Homo sapiens: one gene and its partner. The main gene of each other region encodes a partner of the protein of the gene in region 2 in a complex. Each region holds a gene or a part of one and is shown on either strand. Other genes may lie near its edges. The genes, in order: SRRM2 and PLRG1.

Region 1 (3,818 bases), on a different chromosome or scaffold from region 2:
GGAAGATCAAGGAATTGAGCTTCACTCCAAGAAAAAAAAATCACCACTCCACATGCCACTGCGCCCCCTATGAGTTAAAGAGCTCTTACCTATGCTTACGTTTCTTGGACTCAGATTCTGACCTGTTGGAAAAAAGAGAAGAAAAAACATAAGAAACACCTCTGCCTGAATTCAGCAAACCTTCTCCAGTCATTCAAGTATTCCCACCTCATACCTGTGCTTCTTCTTCTTTGAGCTTTTCTTTCTCTCCCGTCGAGGAGAGCTGCTCTCTGACCTGCTAAAGATGGATTCAAAAGCAAGCTCATCCTGCTTGGCTTCTTTCCTGGCCCTCCCACTTACAATCTCTCTCCTAAAAAGGTTTCTAAAACACTTGAATGTCCTAATAGCACTAATGCCCCAGACCTAAGCCCAGGACTTATTTCTTCTTTCTCCAACAAGCACAAGTAACTCCTTAAGTCAACAAACCTCAAAATGAAAAAGAAAATTCCAGAATCCAAAATGCTGCTGGCCAATCTTAATTAGCAGAACTGCAAACTCAACACTTCCCCACTGAGAAACTCAGGTATTTCTTCTAGTTGAGGCCTCAATGGTAACTCCCTCCTCCCTGACAACTATCTCCTGCTTTGTGGAAGCCAGAACTGTCCACTTCCAGAGAGAAAGGTACACCACAGGATTGGTCCTCTGGCTATCAGAGTCACTTTCCAACTAACTTACCGTCCTCTATCTTTCTTCTTTTTCTTCTTCTTCTGCTTTGGGGTTGGTGAGCGAGAACTGCTAGACTCCCGAACAAGGCTAGGGAAAAATGAAAAGCAGCAGAGATGGGTGGTAGAACAAACATTCCTTTCTTTTCTTTAAAAGACAGAGTCTAAAAAAATAGTAATAAAAATAAAAAAATAAGAGTCTCGCTCTGTTGCCTCAGGTGGGGTGCAGTGGCAGCAACACAGCTCACACCGTAACCTCCAACTTGTGGGCTCAAAAGACCCTCCTGCCTCCACCTCTCCAAGCAGCCTGGACTACAGGCATGTGCCACCAACCAGCTTTTTTTCTTTTTGTAGAGATGGGGTCTCACTACATCGCCCAGGCTGGTCTCAAACTCCTGGCCTCAAGTGATCTCCTGCCTGAGCTTCCCAAAATGCTGGGATTACGCGCGTGACCCACTGTGACTAACCCTTGGACACATTTTTTTGGACACCTCAACTTCAGAAGAACAAAATCTGAAGAGTTTGGGAAGAAACCAGCCCGCAAAAAGACAAAAATAGAGCATGGAGCTTACAATCAAGAAAAGAAGCTGACAGTGGTTTCTTGGCCTTGTATACCTGTAAGGTTTGGGAGGCTCAGGAGCTGGTTGTTTAGCTTCTCGGGCACGACGCTGAGGATCAAAAGAGCTGCCATCTACGTAAGAATCACTGATGCCAAAGGCAGCACGGAGTCTTTCATTCTTCTTCTCATTTAATTCTGCCAACTGGTGAGTCTCCGTGACCCTAGAGAAAAGAAGGGCAAAAGTCTGAAGGAAATATAAAGGACAGAGCCATATTCAGAACACAAGTATAAGCAGGAGCCAAATAAGGCATGGGAAAGGCAGACGAAAGCAGGGAGGAAGTCCCACGTAAGGAAAAGGACAGCAGCAGCAGCCAGCAGCCAGAGTAGAGTCCAGAGTCATCGAGGGAGAGCGCAACACTCACGCTGGCCTCTGCCCTGGGGTCTCCTCCTTGCCCCCAGGGTTCACATCCTTCTCCAGCAACATGAGTCGAAAGGTCGCCACTTTTTCCTGAATTTGCTGTTCCTCGTACCTGAAGAACAAATCCCTTCAGGGTTAAGCTCGACAGGACACTTTCCCCAGTCCCAGGTTTCCATTTCCCTCATTCCCAAAAGGGGCCCCTCCCTCTCCATGCGCACACAGAACTTTTCGCTCACCCAAAAGTCCCTTCTGTCTGATCTTTTCCCATCATCTTTCTTCCCTCTACTTACTACTCCCTCTAGAACAGTGGATTTTAAATATGCTACACCTCAGGGACCAAAAGAAAAAAGTTAAGCAAGCAGGGTTCCAAGTGCTCCTCCCCAACTTCAACAAGAATGTGCCTTTTACTTCCTGGGATTCCAAAGTAAGGGATACTGTATAAAAGGATCACCATTGCTGAAGTTTAAAACCACTGCTCTAAAAGAGTTTTCTGCCTTAATGGGCTCCTTTTCCAAAATTTCCCTTCCCAGCCCATGATTCCCACTTCTTCACGTATTCTTCTAATTCCTCTTTTCCTGCCTATGCTACTTTCCAAGGCCTCAATCCTTACATCCATTTATCTTCTTCTTTTCTACCAATGACAACACCTATCAGCTTACCTAGCTCCTCTACCTGGTCTCTGCTTTCCCATCTCTTCCTTAAAACACATTTTTGTTCCTCAATGGCCCCTCCCTTCTCCCACGTGCCTCCATTTAGTACCTCAGGCTCCCATCTATGCCCCAGACACACAGCCTTCTCATTTCCCACTCTGCACTGTCCCTTAACTGTTTTCACTTCTCTAGAGCTCATCTGCCTCCTCCCCTACCACAACTCTTTGCCAGGCCTCTTTCAACCACCCTAAGCTCCCTATACATCCCACCTAACACCCCCAGCTCTGCACTCATTCAGTGCTTGACTCTCCCCCAGCTCTCCCTCACCCCTGCTCTTCCATCATCTCCTCCAGCTCGAGGCATCGCAGCTCGACGCGCCGCTTGCGCTCGTGGTCCAGGATGTCAGGATTAGGCCGCTTCACCAGGGCAGCCTCCAGGCGCCGCAGTTCCTCCTCTCCCTTGTAGTCAGGCCGCTCACCCCGGCGGCCCCGCACCAGGGACAGGTTGCGCTGGACGTAGCCGTTGGTGCCGCTGCCCCGGGGCGTCGGCAGCCCGATCCCGTTGTACATGGCCCCGTGCCCGGGGGGGGCACCACCGCTCCTGAGGGGGAGCGGGGAGACACGGGTCAGGCCCCTGGCCCCAAACTAACCACTTACCGCCCCACACCCAAGTCCCTGCTCTCCTTCATCCCTAATTCAACATTGATCTTCACACTAAGTCTTCGCTGTATAATGCTCCACCATCCTCCTGGTCTCCCAAGAAAACCACTTCTTTGCCCTTCCAAATTTCCTTTCTACCAAATCACAGCCCAGTTCTTACAGCCTTTCTCTCAATGCCCTTGCACAGAATTCTAAATAATCCCTCCCTACACCTAAATTTTCTTCTTTTTCCACCCTAGGCAAACAAGGATCTTGTTCCTCTAAAATCTCTCCACACTGTCCCTTTTTGTTCTCCTTTGGCCCCAAAATGCACAAGTGGTGTGTTTACCAACTACTCTAATTCCTAACCTCTGGTAACCAACCAAAGCCTCCTGGTCACAACAAACACCAGACACAGATCTGTGGCACCCAACGGCCTCTAGTCCATGTCCAAAGACTCTCCCAAAAACTTACCTAAGGATTTCAGACCACCCTATACGAATATGAAATAAACTACACAGCCCCTAGGTATCTGAACAGCAGACTAGTTGGTTCAGAATGTGCAGCCTCACACCCCAACTAAAGGCCAGCATGCACATCAGAAACACACATGAACCTTGGATAATCGTCATATACTTCACCTCCCAGGTAAGGGCCATTTCCTTGATTCCAAATATTTAAAGATCCTATCAACTATCCTGATATTTTATTCCTTCAATTTCCTTCCTCTCAATAGGATTTACAACAATTTGCAGTTCCTCCCTGTCTTGCCAGCTGTCAAATATTACCTGTTTTCAACTCTGCTCTATTTAAACACATCAAACCAGCCTCCTCTGTTCCAACCGTTCCCAT
Region 2 (3,818 bases):
AGCTGTATGTCAAACAAAAAGGCTCTTACTGTACAATCATTTGAAAAATGAAATTTTTAAGATACATATTAAATTATGTGTAGCTGTACATTTCCTACTATGTACATTTTCTTTTTTAAAATTTTCTGTTTTTAATTTTTGTGGGTACACAGTAGAAATGTATTTATGGAGTACATGAGATATTTTGGTATAGGCAAGCAATGCAAAATAAACAGTATGGAACACTTCACGAATCTGTGTTATCCTTGTGGAAGGGCCATGCTCATCTTCTCCGTACCATTCCAATTTTAGTGTATGTGCTGCTGAAGTTAGCATGCATGTCCATTTTCTTTTAGATGATACACTCTGAATCATTTTCATTTATTGTAGTTGAAAGAGTAACTGGTAGGCCCAAATAAATTTCTTTATATGGTGTTTTTCCCCTTCACCTTCAAACTAAATACTTTGAACACTTTTTCTACATTTATTTAGTCTGCCATCCATATTTAGTAGCTTTATCTTGACATTTCATACTATTTTATATAAAAGTATAACTTTTGCTTAAGGAAGTCACCTTCCCAAGAGATCTTTTAAGATACTCCCTACGACTCTTCTCAATCCACCTCAGATCGCTCTACCAGCTTTTCATATTCACTCTTTTTCCTCCTTATTCTATTCTTCAGTGCTTGTCAACTACAAAGCAATCATGGTTCACATAATAAAATAAATGCAGAGTCACTCACCCTGTAGAGTTTCCACGGTGGGTGCCACTGGGGTTTTGGCATTGTAGGGGCTTTTTTAGCCATCAGTGCAGAGTTCTTGGTATTGCCAGTCTCCATGACAATCTAGACATAGAAGAGACATTATTATTATTAAAGACATCATACCTAAGGCTTCATGATATCAATTCAGAAATGGAAATGGAAAGAGGGAACTTACAAAAGAATTTTTCCATAAATGAAGAAATACAATTTTCTGTATGTTAACTTAAAAAAGCAATTATAAAATCACAGACAGGCAGAGCATTAGACTTAAGAGCACACATCACTGTGTACGGGTTCAAAACCCAGCTTGGCCAATTACTAGCTGTTTGACATTAGGTAACAATCATGTAACCTCTATGTGGCTCACCTGTAAAATGGGAAGAATAGTGCCTATTTCATAGGGTTACTACAAAGATTTAATAAGTAGTAAATGCTCCATGTAAGCTCCCAATATTAAAGTCATTTTAAGTGTATTAGTGCCACTGTCTTTCATTGTCATATTTTAACATTATTGGTTTAATATAGCAAAGACTGACAGTTCCTTCTATTTATCTTCTAATACAATATTTAAATACTATTTTAACAGGTATACTGCCTGATATACCATCTGTTGTTAGCAGTCATCTAGTCATCCAAAACATAAATAAGCCCATAAAGTTCCTGCCCTCAAGAAGCTTAAATTATACCCTCATAAGGAGGGTAGAGAGCCTGGACAGAAGACGTGCTCTGAATGGAATAAAGGAGGAAAGGAGATGTGGCAGTTACACATTCATTCACTTCATAAAGTCAAATCAATTGCATAATGAGCTGAGAAGCAAAACCAGCACTTATTTCAAGTGGCAGCATATTTTATTATGCTGCAGATAAATCAATAAAATAACTATAGAAAATTCAACAACTATTTCTACCATACTAATACCAGTTGCCATTTACTTACAAACAGATAAACTTATTTCTAAATGCTCATTTATAAGACTAGTTGTATAGCCCATGAATAGTACAACACTAACAGCACTCAAGATAACTGTACACACCAACTTAAAATTTAATAAAAAAAAAAAGACTTTCATATTCAATACATACTAACACAAGTTTCAGAAAAACTCTCCTTGCATTTTTAATAGTGGGCAATAAATACCAACATCACATTATCTTTATCAAAATATATATTACACACAATGTACAAGTAGACAAATAACAGAATTAAATTCCAAAAAATACGTTAATTTACTACCAACTTGAGTTTTAGGGCTATGAAATATGAATGACTAGCTCAGGCTGCTATTTATCTTAATAATTCCAAAGAAGAGGGAAATATGGCAACATGTTCCAAAAGTTAGAAACCTGCTATTTGATGCAGAAAAACTTACTGAATTCATCGCTGTAGGCTGTGGACGGTCAGAAGCCCCAGGATGTCGGTATTCACTTCCACTAGGGGCAGTACGATTTGCATCAGCCCTGGGGCAAAAGAAATAATATTTTCAAAGTAATTAATGCCTCCAGTCATGTATTCTGCAAAACTAACCCTTTATTTTAAATTGTTATAAAGTCCTGATAAAGGAAAATGTCATATAATAGTTATAAAGAAATTTTAAAAAGAAAAAATGTGAACAGTGAAATATGCTTTTAAGATCTTTGTAATTATAATATTTCATACTTGGTCTGCAAAGGTAATGCCACCGCTAAGGACTGTGCAGCTGATTCACTTGGCATTCTCTGGATCTTAGTATCTGCTGTCAAAGCAACCCCTATTAAAATGAAAAATCAACTTCTTTTAGTAGCTGTGTATTATTCATTTACATGCACTTAAAATAAAATGATGAAGGAAAACATACACCAAATGTTTATTATCTCCAGGCAGTGATATTATACAAATTTGATTAAGTTTTGCTCATCTTTGTTTTTAATTTCTACAATAAATACTGCTTAATAACACGTAACTCAAATTTGATTTGATCACAGCCCACATGGTATTAAAGCAGCCCAGAATAGTAAAGTTAATTTCCATTATATTTGGGTATTAGTTTCAAGTCAGTATTAAGCAGTTCCTCAAATACTAACAGAATGTTTCCAAGAGTGGATGTAACTTACTAAAACTAGAAACACCCAATTTCCCTGTACTTTCTTTACATACTAAGCCTTTTGTCCTCTACCCTGTTACACTGGCCACTCCATCTGTGGACCAATGCCTTAATACAGACAGAGGACATGTTTCTCAGATACTGCTTCTAACATTTCCATCATTTTTACAAGCTTAGTGATATTTACATGTCTGCCTAAACCACCAGATAATAAATAACTAGGCCTGCAACAGTTTTACTGTCTTTGAATTCCTAGCACATTGCCTGAAAAATTATACGTACTTAAGAATGTTTGCTGAATGAAGGCATATGAGTATTCATTATTACCTACAAAGCTATGCATGGATGCTTGGCTACTGAGCTTATCTTGCATTTTATAGGCAACAAGAATCTCATTATTGGCTCGTTAGTGAAAATATATGTGACATTTTTAAGACATTTTCAATATATAACAGCTCACTAACCAGGTCCTGGTGGGTATGGATGTGTACCTGCCACAAAGTATTCAACTTCTTGTCCTAAAAAAACACAAAAAAAATCAACAGTAGTGAATTTACCTTATACAAAAGTTATCATCTCTTTAAATGTATCAAGTAATATTAAGTTTTCAACTGGATCTATCAAATTTTCTCAACTAAAGTCAAGCCTCAGAAATAAGGGAAGTTGATCACTTTTGCTTTGATCTCTGTAAACCATGTCCTTGACCATTTGCTATATAGCAATGGTATACAAAGAAGCCCTCCTATCAAGTGACAATCCACTCTGGTATTTCTTCCAAGCAAATGGTTTCCTGTGGAATCTTGAATTCTCTTTACTTATTAAGATTTCAGTATTTAATTTCATCTTTCTGAATTACAGACAAGATAGATGGTGTCCTCACAGGTTAAGAATATTCTCCAATTTTTTCCTTTAATCTCTACTGTGACCTTCTCCACACTCTAAGAATCTCTGCCATCATTATACTACCATTTTTATTTCCTATAAGAAAAAAGTC

What was found.
Region 1: PLRG1 (region 2) and SRRM2 share a complex: the UniProt entries of both Homo sapiens proteins name them as parts of the minor spliceosome.

Annotation. Positions count from the first base shown.
Region 1 is NC_000016.10:2,755,444-2,759,261, reverse strand, and holds part of SRRM2 (serine/arginine repetitive matrix protein 2), read right to left. Parts: intron 2,929-3,818; coding exon of another isoform or gene 2,898-2,928; coding exon 2,656-2,897; intron 1,791-2,655; coding exon 1,683-1,790; intron 1,482-1,682; coding exon 1,317-1,481; intron 793-1,316; coding exon 715-792; intron 278-714; coding exon 215-277; intron 123-214; coding exon 90-122; intron 1-89. UniProt on the Homo sapiens protein: Required for pre-mRNA splicing as component of the spliceosome. As a component of the minor spliceosome, involved in the splicing of U12-type introns in pre-mRNAs.
Region 2 is NC_000004.12:154,543,723-154,547,540, forward strand, and holds part of PLRG1 (pleiotropic regulator 1), read right to left. Parts: intron 3,343-3,818; coding exon 3,289-3,342; intron 2,492-3,288; coding exon 2,401-2,491; intron 2,202-2,400; coding exon 2,114-2,201; intron 825-2,113; coding exon 723-824; intron 1-722. UniProt on the Homo sapiens protein: Involved in pre-mRNA splicing as component of the spliceosome. Component of the PRP19-CDC5L complex that forms an integral part of the spliceosome and is required for activating pre-mRNA splicing.